Linked DNA regions of Homo sapiens: region 1 is linked to region 2. The links come from fine-mapping of genetic effects on gene expression. Tissue or cell type: fibroblasts. Region 2 holds a variant in brackets; the other region holds the start of a gene. All regions are shown on one strand. Distances are from middle to middle.

Region 1 (4,249 bases), 25 kb after region 2:
TCTTCCCTAGTGAAGTCCACACACATCCTTACATGGCAGCTGTGGGTATATCAACTGGTCTGACCCCTTTTAGTCACAGAGCCTGAAGTCTGCTAGTACCTGCTGAGCACAGTGTCATGGGTGAGAATGGGCAAGGCTTTTTCTTTCTCTGGTTCCTGAACTTCCCAGGCTCTCTCACTTCTGGATCCTGAATACCCAAATCCCAAGCTTCCTTCCCAGAACCAACACCTCCTCCTCATTAGAAAGATACCTTTGTTGTGTGCTTACTTTATAAAGTCTTGCTCTTTCCCTGTCCACTGCCTTGTGTCACTATGTGTGTGTCTTGGGGCCGGTGGAAAGGTGAACAGAAGCCAGTAGAGAGTAACAAGCACCAGCTTCACAGGAATGGCATGACCTTAATACGATAGTGGCAGTTTTCCCTTAACATCCCTGCCCCCTAAAGATTTCAGATCATATGTCACACTCTTAAGTAACAGCGATTTGTCTTTCACGGTTTTAATCATATTGATTAAAAGCATTTGTCTTCTCCAGAACATCACATTAAGTCATCAAAAAATATAAACCTTAAAAAGATGTAATTATTGGAACTGAAAAACATAAAAGGTGAGCTTTGGAAATATCTTTGAGCAGTCTATTCATTATGAACACATGTAATCTGTTGGAACAAAGTTCTAGGACAATCCAGGTCATCCTTCAATATTTGCAGAAAACAGCACAAAGAAAACTTGATACTTAAACTTAGTTGGAAACTTTATGCCACAGCCATTAAATACAGAGATCATATAAAGGAATAGAGGAAGCTGTTGAATACTAAACTAACTCAAATCATCATTATCCTTACGAAGTGCACACTGAATTAATGTAAAAAGCATTTAGTAAACAAAAAGTATTTTCAATATACAATTAAGACTGAAAAGTATTGAGGCCTCATAAGCTGAACCTGACACAATAAATTTAAAAGGGAAACTAATTTGGAAATCAGAAAACCATCTAAAGAATTTGGGAATTAGGCTTCTGCTGCCCTCTCTGCTACTGACGGTCAAGGCCTCCTCATTGTATTCTGTCCTCCATATCTCTGCTGATTCCCATTTTGTCTATTTCCATTTACCCCACTACTACTTGCTCAGGTCACTCTCCTTCATTGTCGGTGTTTGTTCAAATTCCTCAGACCCATCCACTTCCCATCTAAACTTCCCTCCCCTTTTCTCGCTCGTTGGCTCTACCTCCCTCCTCTGTTTTCTCCTCACTCTCCTGCCCCACCTCGACATCCACAGCGAGGCAATGAAGAAGCCCCTGCCAAGGAAGAGCCCGCTTCTCAGTGGGACACCGGGAAGGTAAACACCCAACAGTCACCGCTAGTGGGAGGCGATTGTGCAGAAGCACGAGGGTTGTTACAGGATCGGGCAGGTCCCCTACCCCAGTCTCGGACTCAGGGTCCTGTCTGAGGCGGCCACCCCGAAGCGTGGGGTTTGCGGAGACGTAGGGCCTGGCGGAGGGAAGGATGGGGAAGCATCTCAGGGAGGACTGGCGTCTGCCGAATCCCAGGGCTGCCCTGAGGGGCCAAGAGGGGCGAGGGTGGGGACGATGGAAGACAAGCCACATGCCGAATCGGGACCTGAGGCCGCGCGCGATAGGATGGGCGGACGGTGAAGAGAACTAGGGTGGAAGGGCCGGACAGGGGCGACCTCAGTGACGGAACCGGACACAGACGCAGATCTGGCAGCTGGGCGACAGGCTTCGGAGCATTTCCGGGCGTCGCGGGACTCCCCGCCGACAGGAGGGCGGTTGCCGAGCCTGTGACATCCGCGGAGACCAGCAGACCCCGGGTGTGGAGGACGCCGCAGGAAGGGAACTGCGTGGCTGGGTTTGGCCACAAAAAGCGGAGGGCACTCACCCGAGCGGACCTCGGCTCCGGAGAATCCGTTTCCGGGTCAACAAAAAACGTCGCGCGAGGGGCGGGGCCCGTACGTGCAGGGAGGGGAGGCAGAGAAAAAGGCGGGGCCGGGCCGGGGCGGGGTCTCGGGCAGGGGCGGGGAGCTTACCGACCTCCCGCCCCCGCTGCGCGCGTTTCTGGCCCTGCCAGTGTCTCCGCCGGTTGAAAGCGCGTGTCTGCGTCGGGTTCTGTTGGAGTGCGTTCGGTGTGCCGTGGGTCCGCGCTGCTTCCACCCAACTTCCTGTTAGGTAAGAGGCGCGTGAGGCTCCTGTGCCGGGGGCGGTGCTGCTCCCGAGTCGGCGCGCGGCGGGGACGCGAGTCCGTAGGTGCTGGCGGGAGCGAGAGTCGGGTGGGGACCCTCGCGAGCCCGCACTCCGCCTCTGGGTAGCAGCCTCTTCGGCCCCACACGGCGTGACGCGCGCTCGGGCTCCGCGTTCGCGTCGAGGCAGAGGCGTAGTAGGGGTCGGGCCCAGGGCTGGAGGGGCCGGGACCGGGCGGGGTGCCGCCCTGGACACCGCGCCGGCAGCTGTTCCGCGCGGGTTCATGTCATTCCTATTTTCAACCTGTCCTGCTCCGCACCTGAGATGATTTATAAATTCGGTACCTTTGGGACAGGCGTGGATGACATCCCATAATTTACTTCGTTATTAATTTCTAAATGTAATACATACCACTATCTAAAAGTATTTTTTAATTTGAAATATATTTGTATACGTATACATGTATATTTATTTATTTCTGAATTTTATCTCGTACATATAATGAGGCTCGTAAAGTGGATACTGTTCAGGACATAGGTGGATTTTGCTTTTAAGTAGTAAAGACTTAATTGGTGACTTACTGGGGCTATTTGATAAGGATTTTTTTTTAATGAACATTAAAAACAGTGAAATTGTATTTCCGGATTTCGTTAGCTTCATTTATATCTTAATTGGTGAAAACTGTAAGTTAATAACTCATTTTTATTTCCTTTGGAGATTCTTAAGTTTGTGCTACCAATGATTATTTCCAAAAAAGGCACACTTCTGGTTTTCCCAGAACTAATGCTAGCTTCTCAATCTTTTGAGTTTACTTGATATTAATGTTTGACCTCAAATCATGTCACATTTTTGAAGAAAACTTTCTCTTAGCCAATGGAACATAAACCACCCTGGAGTTCATATAGAGGAGGGGTTCAAATGCCTCTGATAGTGTCGTGTTAAAACTCATGGCCAAACGCAAGGTCACATAGCTTTCTTTCTATGTTTCCCTCTAGAATTTGTATAGTTTTGTCATTATAAAATGGGTCTTGTCCTAGACCCCAAGAACAGGTTTTTGGATTTCACATGGGAAAGACCTTTTGGCAAGTCACAGAGTATAGTGAAGTTAAGATAGTTTATTAGTGACTACTCAGCTACATAGCAGGGCGTCCTCAGAAAGCAAGAGGAGAAATGCACCTGTTGTAAACATATAATTTTTTTTTGAGACAGAGTTTCTCTCCTGTCACAATGGCATGGTCTCGCCTCACTGCGACCTCTGCTTCCTGGGTTCAAGGATTCTCCTGCCTCAGTCTCCCAAGTAGCTGGGATTACAGGTGCGTGCCAATATACCCGGCTAATTTTTTGTGTTTTTGGTAGAGACTGGGCTTCACCATGTTGGTCAGGCTGGTCTGGAACTCCTGGCCTCAAGTGATCTGCCTGCCTCGGCTTCCCAAAGTGCTGGGATAACAGGCATGAGCCACCCGGCGCCCGGGCTTAATGTTTGTTTATATAGGTTATTAAGAATCAGTTTGTGACAGGCTATTAGTATTGTTACTTCTCTTTGTTACTGTCGATTTTAACAACAATTTATGTGTGTACTGTTACCTTTAAAGTAAAACTTATTTTTAAACTAAGAATGCTTTTTGTTCTTAAAGTTCTGGGACATTTAAATAACTTTCATGTCTTTATTAACTTGTTCCCACAATCATAAATATTTTATAACGAAAAGTGCTCAACCCCCGAAATATATAATCCAACAAATTTAACGTGTGTGTGTGTGTGACAGAGAGAGAGAGACAGGGTCTCACTCTGTCGCCCAGGCTGGAGTGCAGTGGTGCGATTATGGCTGGCTCATTGCAGCCTCGAACTCCTGGGCTCAAGCAATCCTCCCGCTTCAGCCTCCTGGGTAGCTGGGACTACAGGTATGTGCAAGCATGCCATCTAATATATATATATATTTTTTGTAGACATAAGGGTCTTGCTATTTGCCCAAGCTGGTCTTCAACTCCTGATCTCAAGTGATCCACCCGCCTTGGCCTTCCAAAGTGCTGGGATTACAGATGTGACCACTGCACCC
Region 2 (4,249 bases):
TTTACAATGAATGCAGCCATCTCGAGGTATAGAGCTTACCCAGGTTTCCTTTGTTTAGGACATATCAGTTTTGAGTTATAACAGATATAAGGAGGTCTGTTCCTGTAGCTTTTGTACTTGTAAAGATATTAGTTTATTAGCCTGTTTATTCTTTCTTTTAGCATTTTTTATGATTCTAAAAGTCTTTCAAAGCGCTTACTCGTAGTGACCAATTGGGTCATATCAATGACTTTCTATCCAATCTTATGTTTTTTAATCTGGTCTCCAAGCTCTGTTAAGAGTTTATTCATTTAAAAGGCTGTAAGGCATTTCAGTTGTTTCATTATGTATTTTAAGCCTAGAATGGTTTTATATATAAGATTTTAGTCCAGCTCTGTAATAAGGAACTGGTTTATCCTTTTTGTTTGTTTTCATGACTCGATAATGGACCAGGCAATTTTCTGTGGGAAGACAATGGGAATAGCATTTAAGAGGGTTTTTTTTTTCCTGATATCCTTTGTGCCACTCCTGTAGGAGTAGCTTTTGAGGGAACAGTAATACTGTTATAAATTTTGTTTTTTAATCTTTTTGAGACTGGAGTGCAGTGGCACAATCATGGCTCAGTGCAGCCTTGACCTCCTGGTCTCAAGCCATCCTCCCATCTCAGCCTCCTGAGTACCTGGTACCACAGGCACATGCCACCACATTCAGCTAACTTTGTTTTCTGTTGTAGAGACATGGTCGCACTATGTTGCCCAGGCTGGCCTGGAACTCCTGGGCTCAAGAGATCCTCCCACCTCAACCTCCCGAAGTCCTGGGATTACAGGTATGAGCCACTGTGCTAATCCTAACCACGGTTAAAATCTGACAAAAGTTCCCAATTCATAAGAAAATTTGGTTATATTTATTATATGTAGCATTTTATAACAACCAGAATCATGTCTTACAGCTTTGCATCAGGTCCCTGAGATCTTTATAAGTTGTATATAATCTTAGAATACTTACATTTATAACATATTTATATGAATATAACTTTAGAAGATATTTAACAAAACAAAAGTATGGCTGACAACAGATTTTCATCAATATATATGATTTTTGGAACATTTATGTCAGGAACATTTATATCAATAACATACCTATAAGTGTAACTGAAAGATCTTCCATCACTTATTACTTGATATCCTTTGTGCCCTGTGTGGTAAAATGTCGCCCATATATTTTACCAGATAAGTCTAACCATTTAATCTCTATAAGGTAAGAGGCAATATTTTTGAGGGTTTCCAGGGGTCAACCTTCAAAATCCCGAAGTTAGTTTTAGGCCAAAAAGACTTAATATAGGTTTTTAATCTTGAAGAAACCTGCCAAAGATGTCAGAAGACTCAAAACACTCAATCAAACAGAATCAGGGGTCACTGTTAAATAATAGCAATACAGAAGGTTACATAGATGTAAAAACATTAACCCTTTTATAGCTCTTTTCCTAACTAATCTAAAACCCAATTAAGACAAGGAAGGAATTGCCTTGATAACATGTACAATCTTTATTTTTGTCTTTTAGGCTAGTTGTGAGAAAGGTAAAGAAAAATTTCCTATAGTGTGATTGCTTTTGTTTATAAGAAACCCATTTAGATTTCTTGGAAGTTAAACCTAATGAAAAGGTTACTTGAATTTCATCAGACAGGTAGACAGTGTCCACGGCTATGAGTATATAGAGAAATGCAACCGAAAAACTGGTACCTTGGACAGGGAAATCCATGGCTGTTAGTAACCACATGAAAAGTTACTGGCTGGGCGCGGTGGCTCGCGCCTGTAATCCCAGCACTTTGGGAGGCCGAGGCGGGTGGATCACAAGGTCAGGAGATCGAGACCATCCTGGCTAACATGGTGAAACCCGGTCTCCACTAAAAATACAAAAAATTAGCCGGGCGTGGTGGCGGGCTCCTGTAGTCCCAGCTACTCGAGAGGCTGAGGCAGGAGAATGGTGTGAACCCGGGAGGCGGAGCTTGCAGTGAGCC[C/G]AGATCGCGCCACTGCACTCCAGCCTGGGCGACAGACCGAGACCCCGTCTCAAAAAAAAAAGAAGAGAAAAGAAAAGAAAAGTTATCTGACTGTATGGAATAATTTTGATATATCAAGAAAAACGGGCCAGCTTTGGTGGCTCACGCCTGTAATCTCAGCACTTTGGGAGGCTGAGGTTGGAGGGTCTCTTTACCCAGGAGTTTGACATCAGCCTGAAACATAGTGAGACCCCATCTCTATGAAACTAGAACTAAAAACTTAGCCAAGCATGGTTGGTGTTGTGGGAGGGACCAGGTGAGAGGTAATTGAATAATAGAGGCAAGTCTTTCCCGTGCTGTTCTTGTGATAGTGAATAAGTCTCATGAGATCTGATGATATTATAAGGAGGAGCTTCTCTGCACAGCTCTGTCTTTGCCTGATGCCATCCACCTAAGATGTGACTTGCTCATCCTTGCCTTCTGCCATGATTGTGAGGCCTCCCCAGCAAGGTGAAACTATAAGTCCATTTAACCTCCTTTTTTTTGTAAATTGCCCATCCTCGGGTATGTATTTATCAGCAGGGTGAAAATAGACTAATATTATAAATTGGTACCAGTAGAGTGGGATGGTGCTGAAAAAATAGCCGAAAATGTGGAAGCGACTTTGGAACTCGGTAACAGGCAGAGGTTCTAACAGTTTGGAGGGCTCAGAAGAAGACAAGAAAATATGAGAAAGTTTGGAACTTCCTAGAGACTTGATGAATGGCTTTAACCAAAATGCGGATAATGATATGGACAATGAAATCCAGGCTGAGGTGGTCTCAGATGGAGATGAGGAACTTGTTGGGAACTGGAGCAAAGGTGGCTTTTGTTATGTTTTATCAAAGAGACTGCCAGTATTTTGCCCCCGCCCTAGAGATATGTGGAACTTTGAACTTGAGAGGGATGATTTAGGGTATCTGGCAGAAGAAATTTCTGAGCAGTATATCATTCAAGATGTGACTTGGGTGGTGTTAAAGGCATTCAATTTTATAAGGGAAGCACAGTATAAAAGTTCAGAAAATTTGCAGCCTGGTGGGTTACTGACACAGTGCAGGCCCCTCCCACTGCGGCAGCTGAGCCTACTGGCAGGGCAGCCATAGTGTCACCACCTTATGTGACACCCACCTGTCTGACTGGCCGACCAGTGGGTTACAGGCCCCCCCTGTGCAGGACCCACCCTTTGTGGCAGTTAAGTCCACCCAAGCTGAGGTATCCTGGCGAGATCTTCACCTGGGTCCCATGGGGAAAATCAGTCAGCACCATATGTGCTCTGGTGGACAGGTGAGTGTCCCTTATGCCCCCATCGCCATAGTATCAGGAGAACTAGGAAATGAAATAAACGTCTTTGGCTAGAGCATGTCCTTGTCACCCCTTCCCTGAGTACTTTCTCTTCGGACTCCATTGTGTTGTTCCATTAGTTATTTTATTTTCAGTCCTAAAATGTGTGCAGTCTTATGTTTGGTTTTACCTTTCTGTTAATTGTTTGGGGACGATTAAGGCAGGATACTTGGTTGTGAGAGATCCCCACTGTTTTTACTTCGGGATGCTAGAGTCATGTTGTTTGCTGACCCCAATTTGGTCTTGGATTGACTGTTGGCCGCATTCTGGGTGCCCCAGGGTTTTCAGGATTTGGTGAAGGGACCCTTGTTGGCTGAAACTTGGGCCTTCTGAGTTTTCAACATTGGTATTCTGGCCACCCCCCATATGATCTGGAGTATTTGTGTTGACATTCCCTCTAGGATTCTGAGGGATATATGAGTTATAGCCCTCTCCCTAGGGGAGTATTGGTCTTGCCCTTTTCTGCCCTATAAGTTAGAAGTATTTTCCTAATAGCAAGCTGCTAACCCTTCCTTTATGCTGTCTTCCAACTAGCTTGCTCAAGCCACTCTTGGTCCAAGGAAATGGGAATTCCCAGGCCCCTGGCATAATGGAGAGCCACCTACAGTGGTAGGCAATTGGCCACGTGAATATTTTTTTCAGTGTCTCTGCTACGGGATAGGTTACCCAGCAGGTCAGGGCCTCTGAGGTCTCCCCTTGGGCAGCACTGTTTACCTCTTCCATTTCTCCCTTCCACAGTCCCTCCCTTCCATTTTTGAGCCCACCTCTCTACCAACCGTTGCTGTCTGTGGCATTTAGGTTCAAAATCCAACTGCCCATTTGAAGCTCATAATCCACTTTTTAAAAATTATGCTTTAAGTTCTAGGGTACACGTGCACAACCTGCAGGTTTTT

What was found. PIP is the estimated chance that this variant, and not a neighbour inherited with it, causes the effect.
Region 1: ZNF596 starts here. The variant in region 2 is fine-mapped to the expression of ZNF596 in fibroblasts (GTEx, PIP above 0.99).

The regions. Positions count from the first base shown.
Region 1 is chr8:230,061-234,309 of GRCh38, reverse strand. It overlaps ZNF596 (zinc finger protein 596), which reads right to left and starts at 1,854. Exons shown (of 6, transcript NM_001042416.3): 1 at 1,616-1,854. It also overlaps the pseudogene RPL23AP53. RefSeq lists an enhancer at 1,648-1,967 and a silencer at 1,988-2,087.
Region 2 is chr8:254,778-259,026 of GRCh38, reverse strand. It overlaps LOC101927566 (a long non-coding RNA gene), which reads left to right. Exons shown (of 5, transcript XR_245320.4): 5 at 713-760. Among named protein-coding and RNA genes, the nearest start is that of ZNF596, 24 kb to the right of the region's middle. The variant C/G (reference allele first, on the strand shown) is at 1,998.